Homo sapiens: one gene and its partners. The protein of the gene in region 1 interacts with the protein of each later gene in a pairwise test. Each region holds a gene or a part of one and is shown in the gene's direction. Other genes may lie near its edges.

What was found. The genes of interacting proteins can lie anywhere in the genome.
Region 2: the proteins of TRAPPC6A (region 1) and RAD54B interact in a two-hybrid assay, tested with the Homo sapiens proteins (one large-scale study listed by BioGRID and IntAct).
Region 3: the proteins of TRAPPC6A (region 1) and TRAPPC10 interact in a two-hybrid assay, tested with the Homo sapiens proteins (one study listed by BioGRID).

Annotation. Positions count from the first base shown.
Region 1 is NC_000019.10:45,168,238-45,171,737, reverse strand, and holds part of TRAPPC6A (trafficking protein particle complex subunit 6A), read left to right. Parts: intron 1-3,500. UniProt on the Homo sapiens protein: May play a role in vesicular transport during the biogenesis of melanosomes.
Region 2 is NC_000008.11:94,402,116-94,405,615, reverse strand, and holds part of RAD54B (DNA repair and recombination protein RAD54B), read left to right. Parts: intron 1-1,376; coding exon 1,377-1,539; intron 1,540-3,500. UniProt on the Homo sapiens protein: Involved in DNA repair and mitotic recombination. May play an active role in recombination processes in concert with other members of the RAD52 epistasis group.
Region 3 is NC_000021.9:44,015,309-44,018,808, forward strand, and holds part of TRAPPC10 (trafficking protein particle complex subunit 10), read left to right. Parts: intron 1-3,500. UniProt on the Homo sapiens protein: Specific subunit of the TRAPP (transport protein particle) II complex, a highly conserved vesicle tethering complex that functions in late Golgi trafficking as a membrane tether.

The DNA of each region.
Region 1 (3,500 bases):
ATGTCCTGTAGGCACCACAGGGAATATTAGACTTCCTGCATCTCTTCCAAGCATCCTGTAGCTTTTCTCTCATTTTTTCCTCCCTCCTGTTTTTCTTCTGGGAGGTGTTATCTGTCTTACAGGTTTCTCTGTTATTCAGTTCCCTTGTTAAAAAGTGTTGATTTTGGCCACCATATTTGTTCATTTCCAGGAACTCTGCTTTGTGTCTGATTGATCCTTCCTGTGTGGTGGATGTCATTAGCACCGACACTGATAAGACTTCCCTTCCACCTTTCCTTTCATCCGGTCTGTGTGTAAACTCAGCAGAGGCAGGCGTGGGGAGCCCCAGAAATGCACCGGCTCTGGGCTGGGCTCTGGCAGATTCATATGAATGGGAGAGTCTCTGTCTGGCCAGCCCTTCTGTTTTGTTTTGTTTTGTTTTGTTTTGTTTTGTTTTGTGACTGAGTCTCGCTCTGTCACCCAGGCTGGAATGTGTTGGTGTGATCTCAGCTCACTGAAACCTCTGCCTCCCGGGTTCAAGCGATCCTGGTGGCTCAGCCTCCTGAATAGCTGGGATTATAGGCGTGCGCCACCACGCCCGGCTAATTTTTGTATTTTCAGTAGAGACAGGGTTTTGCCATGTTGGCCAGGCTGGTCTCAAACTCCTAACCTCAAGTGATCCTCCCGCCTTGGCTTCCCAAAGTGCTGGGATTACAGGCAAGAGCCCCCGCGCCCAGCCCCTTCTGTTTTTAAGAAAGATAAACCCCTAACCTCTGAAGAGCTTTTGCAGTGACATGGGCATGGACACCACCAGGTCTCGCTGTGATGAGGTGGGTGGAGGCTTCTCCCTTCCTCCTCCGCCCTTTCTTCCCTGCCTCCTGCTCCTCCTCGGCCCCTCCCTTTTGCTGTGATTCCCCACAGCCCTTTTCAGTTCAGCCAGGATCTGAATGGCCCCTGTCCAGGGCTGGGTACAGTGGGGCCAGCAGTCACACAGCCGTGTATCCAGCTGTTGCCACCTGCCAGTCACACCACCACTGTGAGCAGGTACTGCCATTAGCCCCATGGCACATGTGGGGAAACTGAGGCACGGGATGGTTGGCTAATCTGCCCAAGGTCACAGAGCCAGTGAGTGGCGGGGCCGAGATTCAAACCCAGGCAGTGTGAAGTTCATGAAGGGAAAAGCTGAACTTGCTGGAACCCCTTCAGACTCCACGCTCCTGGCCTGGCTGAAGGACCCTGCTGACTCTCTCCCCCAGCTCACCCCTCCGGGGGCTGCCGTCCTGGCTGTGACCTGGGCCTGGTGTGCCTTCACAGCCCACTCCTGCTGTTGAACTCCCCCTCTTCCCTCAGGCTCAGCACAGTCGGGGTGCTTCCTAGGGGTGGGAGTGCACCCTCGCAGCACACCTGCCTCCCTCTTGGCAGTCGCTGTGAGCATAGTGAAGCCGGCCATTGCACCTTTGCCCATTCCCCGGGTGAAACGCCAGCTCCAGCAGGGCAGGGACTGAGTCTGTGGCCCACTGTGGCTGGCATTCAGGCAACGTGGCCTGCGTTGACCCTCAGGTTGGCTGCACTTGCCTGCAGGGGAAAATGCCCCCTCTGCAGCCCACTCTGAGGGCCCCTTCCCTTCCCCGCCTCTCACCCCTGCCTTGGCACATGCCCTTTGCTTGGAATACCTGCCACCTCCGGCCCCCTCCTGGAGGGCAGGCTCTGCACTGCACTGCCCGGGCCCCTTGCACTCAGTCTCCCAGCCCTTCCCAGATTGTCAGTTGGCATCATTTGGGCACCTGTCAACCCTGCCAGGCAAGGTAGGTGAGCTCCTGGAGGACACTAGGAAATGTCTGTGGCATGAATGAGGGAGGGACATAAAGGAGCCCTTAGCGAGTGGGGACACAGACGTGTTCCACCAGAGTGCAGCCTGGCCCTGCCTCTGGGAGCTTTGCTGTGGACACAGACGTGTTCCCTCAGAGTGCAGCCTGGGCCCTGCCTCCAGGAGCTTCGCTGTGGGAGGAGGTGACACGGGAGCCGCAGCTACCAGGCAGCGAGCTCTCGCCCGGGCTGTTCTAGGTGCTGGCTACAGGAGCCCACAGAACAGACCCCCTTCCTTCCTGGGGTTCTCCTCCAGCCAAGGGCTTCATCCCTCATTGGCTGGGGCCGTCTCCTTGTTTGACAGATGTGGAGGCTGTGAATGCAATAAGTAAGGCTCCCGGAACTGCCTTGAAGTACTCAGGTTGCCTTTACCAACCCTTACTCCTTGTGAGGATCCTGGAGGTAGCTGCCATTAATATTCCCCTCCTTTGGGCTGGACGCAGTGGCTCACACCTGTAGTCCCAGCTACTTGGGAGGCAGAGGTAGGAGGATCACCTGAACCCAGGAGGTAGAGGCTGCAGTGAGCCAAGATCGTGCCATTGCACTCCAGCCTGGGTGACAGAATGAGACCCTATCTCAAAAACAAACAAAATGACCCTCTTTTTTACATGAGGAAACTGAGGCACAGGTATTCAGCCATTGGCCCAGGTCCCACACTGGTAAGTGCTGGGGCGGATCTGGACCCAGGCGGTGGCTCTGCACCTGCGCCGCTGGTAGTGCTGCCATGAAGGACCCACGGGCAGGGGTCTCTTCCCACTCTGTCTCTCACACACACCTGCCCGTCTCCTGCAGTCATCGGCCCCTTCCATGAGCCTCTGCTGTGTGGCCGGCCCTGCTGTGCCTGAGGACACTGGAGGAAAGCAGATGGTGACACCAGAGGGAGACAGTGCAACAGGAAGCCGTGTCGTTGTCACCCATGAGGGCGAGGCCTGGCAAGGGGCCAGGCAGAGGAAGGGCCACCTTGGCTTCAGATATGGGCGACCTCAGCTCAGGCCCCCCCGCCATTCCCAGCGCTCCTCACCTCCGTGAGGCCCTCAACAGCCATGGCTGTCACCCCACCCACCCTCCTATCTGGACCTGCTGGGGTGTGAAAGACAGTCCCGTGCTGAGGGTGCCTTGGATGGGTTCTTCTTAACCTCAGAGCCCCTGTTTCCACCTGGAATTACAGCCTTCTGTGAGGCTGGAAAGGTAAAACAAGAAGGCTGTAGAAAACGCCTGCCACACAGTATGCCGGTCCTGGAATAACATTTTGTTGTGACATTGATGAGGAAAAAATAATGATTCCCGGGACCATTGTCTGGGTGGTGGTTGTGGGTTCTCCCTGTGCTGGTGCAAGTTCCTCTGGGCTCTCCTTTCCTTGTGCATCCTTGGGATGTGTCCGCTGGGTGAGCTCCCGGGTCTCCGTGGGCCCAGTGTGAGTGAGTGTGGGCCCGTGTGCGCCCTGTGATGGGATGGCGTTCTGTCCAGGGTCCATTCCTGCTTTTGGCCCTGCCAGGACGGGCTCTGGCCACCCAGGACCCTGAGCTGGAGGAAGCGAGTAAATGTCTTACTGGTTTTTTGTTTTTTATTTATTTTTTAAGACAGGGTCAGGGCCGGGCGCGGTGGCTCACGCCTATAATCCCAGCACTTTGGGAGGCCGAGGTGGGTGAATCACG
Region 2 (3,500 bases), on another chromosome or scaffold:
GAAAGCCAAGGACTACATTTCCCATTTTTACTTCCTAGTCTCCTACCTAACAGGAATTGACCTCAAAGATGAAAGTTCATTTCAGTTACTCAGAAACCTAGGAAGATCCAGAGAAAACTTACCCTCTGGGTATTTGTTAATGGTAAACATGACTAAACTCTTATTCCTGTGACAGTATAGTTCCACACTGATGAATATTTACATAGTCTACTGGAGTCTATTTCTTTTTATCTCCTCTTCTCATCTCCTCATTCTTTTTTCTTTTTTTATCTAATTCAATTTTTATAAACATGATGTAGGCATGCAAATATATCCCCAAAATAATTTTGGTGGGTTTATTATCTAATTTCAGATTTATCAATTGAGACCTGCCTTCTAGTTATATTTGATTTTGCCTTTTTGGGTGATATTTTAGTAAATCTTTTAAATTGTGTTAGCATAGTTTTGAAGAATTACATTGTTATTCTATGATGACTTCATGCTGCTTTAAAGAGGTTCATGAGGCTGGGTGCAGTGGCTCATGCCTTTAATCCCAGCACTTTGGGAGGCTGAGGTGGGCAGATCACTTGAGGTCAGGAGTTCGTGACCAGCCTGGCTAACATGGTGAAACCTTGCCTCTGTTAAAAATACAAAAATTAGCCGGGTGTGGTGGCGCGAACCTGTAATCCCAGGTACTTGGGAGGCTGAGGCACGAGAATTGCTTGAACCTGGGAGGCGGAGGTTGCAGTGAGCTGAGATCACACCACTGCACTCCACCCTGGGCAACAGAGTGATACTCTGTCCCCAGAAAAAAAAGCTTTATGAACTTGACATTCATGAATGTAGTAATTAACTTCAAGCAAATAATGGTGGCTAAGTCAATGGAGAATTTATCATTTTTTCTCAGTTCTAATTAATAGGAGTAATGATCATTGTTAGTGTGTTTAGGACTGAAAAGATAGAAAGCCTGTATGTTAAATTTGGGGAGACTTTTCAGAATGAGAAGCTGTGAACATTGGCAAATGCATCTTGGCAAAATTCCAACCTGTACTTTCAGTTGGAAATAGTTCTCTTTGCTCTGAATACTGAACTATTCAATGTTGTGGCTTATTGAATTCCTTACTAGACAATAGTGAATTTCATTGCTTTCGAAGCACTTTTGGGTATATGAAGTTTGGAAGGCTCTTCGTAATTCTTTGCATGAAATCGTTCATCAGTAAGGCATGAGATTTTCTTTTTAAATTTTGTGCCCTTGGGTAACATTACTGTGACTAAATTTTGGACTTTTTTGGCCACAAATGATGGCAAACATTTCTATCTTAGGGTAATGAAAACAAGATAATGTTGGTTGCTGAAAAAGTGAAATTACAATACTTGTACTTTTATCATTTTTTAAGATTCCCTCGTTATGCCACGACCAGATAAGAATCACCAGTGGGTATTCAATAAGAACTGTTTCCCTCTTGTGGATGTAGTGATTGATCCTTACCTTGTATATCATCTTCGACCACATCAGAAAGAAGGAATCATATTCCTTTATGAATGTGTAATGGGAATGAGGTAGGAAAATAAATCATTTGTTTAATCTAATCTGAATTTTGATTTAACCTGTAACACAATAATGGTTTTCTAAGAAGATCCTAATATAATGAGTCCTGAGGGTACACTATGAATTTCAATTGGTAGGAAAGGTGAATAGTGCTTACTGTGTGCATTTATTCCAAAAGTGGTTCTTGATAGATGCCACGTGCCAAACATACTGCTAGGAGGTGGGCATATGGGAATCAGGACCACGGTCCTTACTTTTAAGTGGCTTTTAAAGTATTTGAGTAAACAGATAAATGCAATTGACCTTAATGTGGTATAATAAAAGCTTACCGACTGCTAGTGTGGTAAAGGGTCATAAGAGCAAGTGAAAGAGGCTTTTAATTCTGGTTATAAGAATTTTTTTTTTTTTTTGGAGACGGAGTCTTACTATGTTGCCCAGACTGGAGTGCAATGGCGTTATCTTGGCTCACTGCAATCTCCATCTCCCAAGTTCAAGTGATTCTTGCATCTCAGCCTCCTGAGTAGCTAGGATTACAGGCGTGCTCCACCATGCCTGGCTAATTTTTGTATTTTTAGTAGAGACGGGGTTTCACCATGTTGGCCAGGCTGGTCTTGAACTCTTGACCTCAAGAGATCCACCCACCTCAGCCTCCCAAAGTGCTAGGATTACAGGCATGAGCCACTGCACCTGGTTATGAGAATTTTGGAAAAAGATTTTCTTCTGTCTCTACATCTGAAAATAGAAAAAAGTTTCTTCTTCCTTTTTGCATTTTCTGATTAAAGAATAGTAGTATCTTAAAGATATTTTAGAGGACACAAAAAAACAGGAGAAAAAAAGAATCAAAGGCCCCTGCTAACATTTCTTCCAGTCTTTTTTGTTTATTTGTTTTGGTTTTGTTTTGCCTTGTTTTTAAATGCCAAGACCCTTGATTTTAAAATTTGTCCTTTAAAGGTAGTTGGAAATGAAATTCTCCCCAACTCTAAGAACTCCTTGAATGATGACAAGTTAAGGGAATACTGTCTTCCAGAAACTGTTAACTAGACTCATATTTCCTCCCAAATCTGCTTTTTCTTTCGAAGGTCTTATCTCAGTTGGTCTGTGAATCATCTTTGATTTCTTCTCTCTCACATTCTGAATCTAGTCAAACCTGAACTTTTAATTATTTTAACCTCCTAAATATTGTTTCCTAATCTTTTCTGTCATTCCACTGCAGCATCTCTAGTAACCGATGTCATAAAAATATCATATTTTATCTAGACTATTGCAATGGCTTCTAACCTGTATATTTGCTTCTGATGCTTCTCAAATAATGTATTCTACTTAAAGCCACCATCTTGAGTTTTCTGAAAAACAGTTCTGAACATGGCATTCCCTTATTTAAAATCATTCAGAGACTCTCAGAACTTAGAACAGTGTTTCCCAAACTGTGATCCCTACTCCACTGGCAGTATATGGGACCATTTTGAGGTGGCAAGTGGACAAGCCTTTAAAAAAATTTGAATAGTAGCATATTTAGTTAATTATTGGAAAAATAGGCTGGGCATGGTGGCTTACACCTGTAATCCCAGCATTTTCGGAGGCCAAGGCAGGCGGATCACTTGAGGTCAGGAGTTCAAGACTAGCCTGGCTAACATGGTGAAATCCCGTCTCTACTAAAAATACAAAAATTAGCTGGGTGTGGTGGCAGGCACCTATAATCCTAGCTACTCAGGAGGCTGAGGCAGGAGAATCACTTGAATCCAGGAGGCGGAGGTTGCAGTGAGCCAAGATAGCGCCACTGCACTCCAGCCTGGATGACAGAGCAAGACTCCGTCTGGAGAGGAAAAAAAAAAAAAAGAAAAATAGCACATTAAACTTTTGGTTTCACAGATAAATTATGCTTAGAAAGAGTTTTCTTTTCAAATTTAAGTTAAAATGATTTGAAGAAAAATCATAAATAACATATAGTATCACAGATATGACAACAAATCGT
Region 3 (3,500 bases), on another chromosome or scaffold:
TTAAAAACTGTGTATATGTAGGGATAGAAGAATGAAAAGTTCCCAAAGATTAAGGGTAATTAGAATAGATTATTACTTTAAAACCTAGCTGATTATTTCACTTCATTTTATTATTATTATTTTTTTAGAGATGGGGTCTCGCTCTGTCACCTAGGCTAGAGTGCAGTGGCATGGTCATAGCCGACTGCAGCCTTGCTGGGCTCAAGTGACCCCTCCCTTAGCCTGCCAAGTAGCCAGCACTACAGGTATGACCCACCTCACCTGGCCTGAATTATTTTAATAATATTTTGAAGCTCTCCAAATTTTTTTTTTTTTTTTCTGTCTGAGACAGAGTCTTGTTCTCTTGCCCAGGCTGGAGTGCAGTGGCGCGATCTCGGCTCACTGCAACTTCTGCCTCCCGGGTTCAGTCGATTCTCCTGCCTCAGCCTCCCAAGTAGCTGGGATTACAGGCGTACACCACCATGCCCACCTAATTTTTGTATTTTAATAGAGACACAGTTTCACCTTGTTGGCCAGGCAGGTCTAGAACTCCTGACCTCAGGTGACCTGCCCGCCTCGGCCTCCCAAAGTGCTGGGATTACAGGCGTGAGCCCCCGCACCTGGCCCTAAATGTTTTAATAGACTTTAGCCCATAATTAAACCTCCTGCCTAACGGGCTCCTGTGAAGAGGGACTAGCACAGTAGGGGCCTTCTTAAACTCAGAACTAGTTACAGCTTGTAAATACTGAAGAGTGTATGTGAAATGTGCAGGGATGGGAGCTGAACAGTTAGTGGAACTAATGCTTTGACGGGGTTGGGTGATGAATGACCGAATCATAGCAATAGGAAAACTTGTAGTATATTTTATTAATCATGAAAAATGCCTGGCGTAACTGAAACAAATCCAGCAGATCCATTTGGTCTAAATTTAAATTTTAGCGTAGATTTGTTTTTCAGCCACAGGGTCAGTTTTCTGTTTTGAAATAGACTTGGGTTTCTGTTCCAAGGGTGTATTAGGAAAGACACGTTCCTTTTCCAGCCATCTCATTCAGTTAGTGACAAAGTTAATGTAATTCCAGTGATTTGTGGCTTTTCTTTGTTGACTGTCCTCATACCTACAATAGCACATACCTGTTATTAGCTTGGAATTGAATTTCTCTGAACAATAATAGTACCCTCCCTCTAGGTGATCTGTTCTCATTAGTCACATCTGTTGCCTGTTTCATTTTTCTGAGTTTCTGTATTTGGGGTTCCAGGTCTGATATTAGAAACTTTTAAAGGGGAAAACAGGCAACAGAAATGAGCAGATATGTAGAGCTTCGTGTCTGGTTGGACTTTGGGATTTTCCCCTGTAGGTTAAAATTTTTTTAATTTTAATTTTTATTTTTTGAGACGGAGTCTTGCTTTGTTGCCCAGGCTGGAGTGCAGTGGTGTGATCTTGGCTAACTGCAAGCTCCGCCTCCCGGGTTCACGCCATTCTCCTGCCTCAGCCTTCCGAGTAGCTGGGACTACAGGCGCCCGCCACCACGCCTGGCTAATTTTTTGTATTTTTAGTAGAGACGGGGTTTCACCGTGTCAGCCAGGATGGTCTTGATCTGACCTTGTGATCTGCCCGCCTCAGCCTCCCAAAGTGCTGGGATTATAGGCATGAGCCACCGCGCCCAGCCAGGTTAAAGTTTTTAAATTTGCACATTGAAATTTTCTACTAAACCTGAAAATGTGGTGCTTGCGATTTAACCATCACTAGTTTTACTACCAGAAAAGTCACTTGAAATGTCTGTTTAAATGGGTGAATATGTTATAAATGCAGATTTTGTTTCATATTGAATTCTCAAGGCAATGTTGAACCAAAGATTGAAAAGTAGGAGAAACATTCTTCTTAGGAAATCGCAGTTGTTGCAGAGAGTATGTATTTGGAGGCGGGGACTAAAGGCACCAACAAATGTGCTTAACTTACTATGTCATTTCTACCCGAGCATGGTTACAAACCATTCCATCTTGTACGCATGACCTCGGTTCTTACATAATTTCACAGACCCTTAGCTGTGAAACGGGTACAGTACCAACCCCATCGGGTTGAGAAGGGTGTGTAAAGCACTCAGGAGAGTGTCAGGATTATAGTCAGTGTGCAAAAAAAGTTACTAAGGAGAGGTTCCTCAATTTTCTCTGTTCACAATGCTTTTAGTGTCTCGGTAATTTTTTTCATGGCATCTCTAGGCTAAAAGGAATACTTAAAAATTCCATTTATTAAGTAGTTAGATTCCAGTAATTTATTAAATATTATGTCCTAACAAGAGCTGTTTGAAAAAAAATATATATAAGTTGGAAGAAAAAAATATTTTCATCATTCTTCCTAATTGCAGCAGTGTGCTACGTGGGGGGCAGGCCCTGCGGGAGCTCTGTGGCACCTCTCACCTGAAGGTCGGATTGGACGCTGCTTCTCCCTTTGGTTTTTTTTTTTTCTTCTTCTTTTTGGTGGTACTTGCTTTTTATCAGAGCAGCCACCCTGTTTTGCGACGATAATGATGTCATCGAAAGAAGTGGAGCCCTGATCTGATGTTGACACTGTGAATACCTTGTGTGGGGTTCCTACACCACAAGCATTGCTGTTTCCCTCATAAATTTAAAATATCTCTTGGTGCCTCTCTGCGTAGTGTGTGGGAAGCCTAGGTACACAGTTTGGGAACCCGTGCTGTTAGTGTTATTAGCCCAACTCCAGGGTGGATTTGAACTGATACTTTAGAATTGAAAAGCTTCCTTTCTTTTCAGCTCACACACCTACTTTACTACAAGATGTGTTTCTGAAGAGTTTCTAGTAAGTTCTTTATGCAAATGAAATGGAAAGGTCTGATTTTCTTTTTTTTTTTCTTTTTTTCTTAAGTGCTGATGAATCTCTGAAATAATCAAGTATGATACAGCTTGGGCAACATAGGGAATTCCTATCTCTACAAAAATGAAAATAAAAAAGTTAGCCAGGTGTGGTGGTGTGCGCTTGTACTCCCAGCTACTTGGGAGGCCGAGGCGGGAGGATCACTTGGACCTGGGACGTCAAGGCTGCAGTGATCTGTGATTGTACCTCACACTGCAACCTGGGTGACAGAGCAAGACCTGGTCTCAGAAAAAAAAATAAAGGCTGGGCGCAGTGACTCATGGCCATAATCCCAGCACTTTGGGAGGCCAAGGTGGGTGGATCATGAGGTCAAGAGATTGAGACCACCCTGGCCAACATGGTGAAACCCCGTCTCTACTAAAAATACAAAAATTAGCTGGGCGTGGTGGCTCGCGTCTGTAGTCCCAGCTACTCGGGAGGTTGAGGCAGGAGAATTGCTTGAATCTGGGAGGCGGAGGTTGCAGTGAGCCGAGATCATGCCACTGCACTCCAGCCTGGCGTGAGACTCCGTCTCAAAAAAAAAAAAAAAAAAGTATGTCGGGCATAACACATGAACCAGTCTTTCCTTAGAGAGTTTTTGCTGTGTGCTTCCACCAGAGGCCTGCCAACTGACAGTGTGATTGTGTGGCTC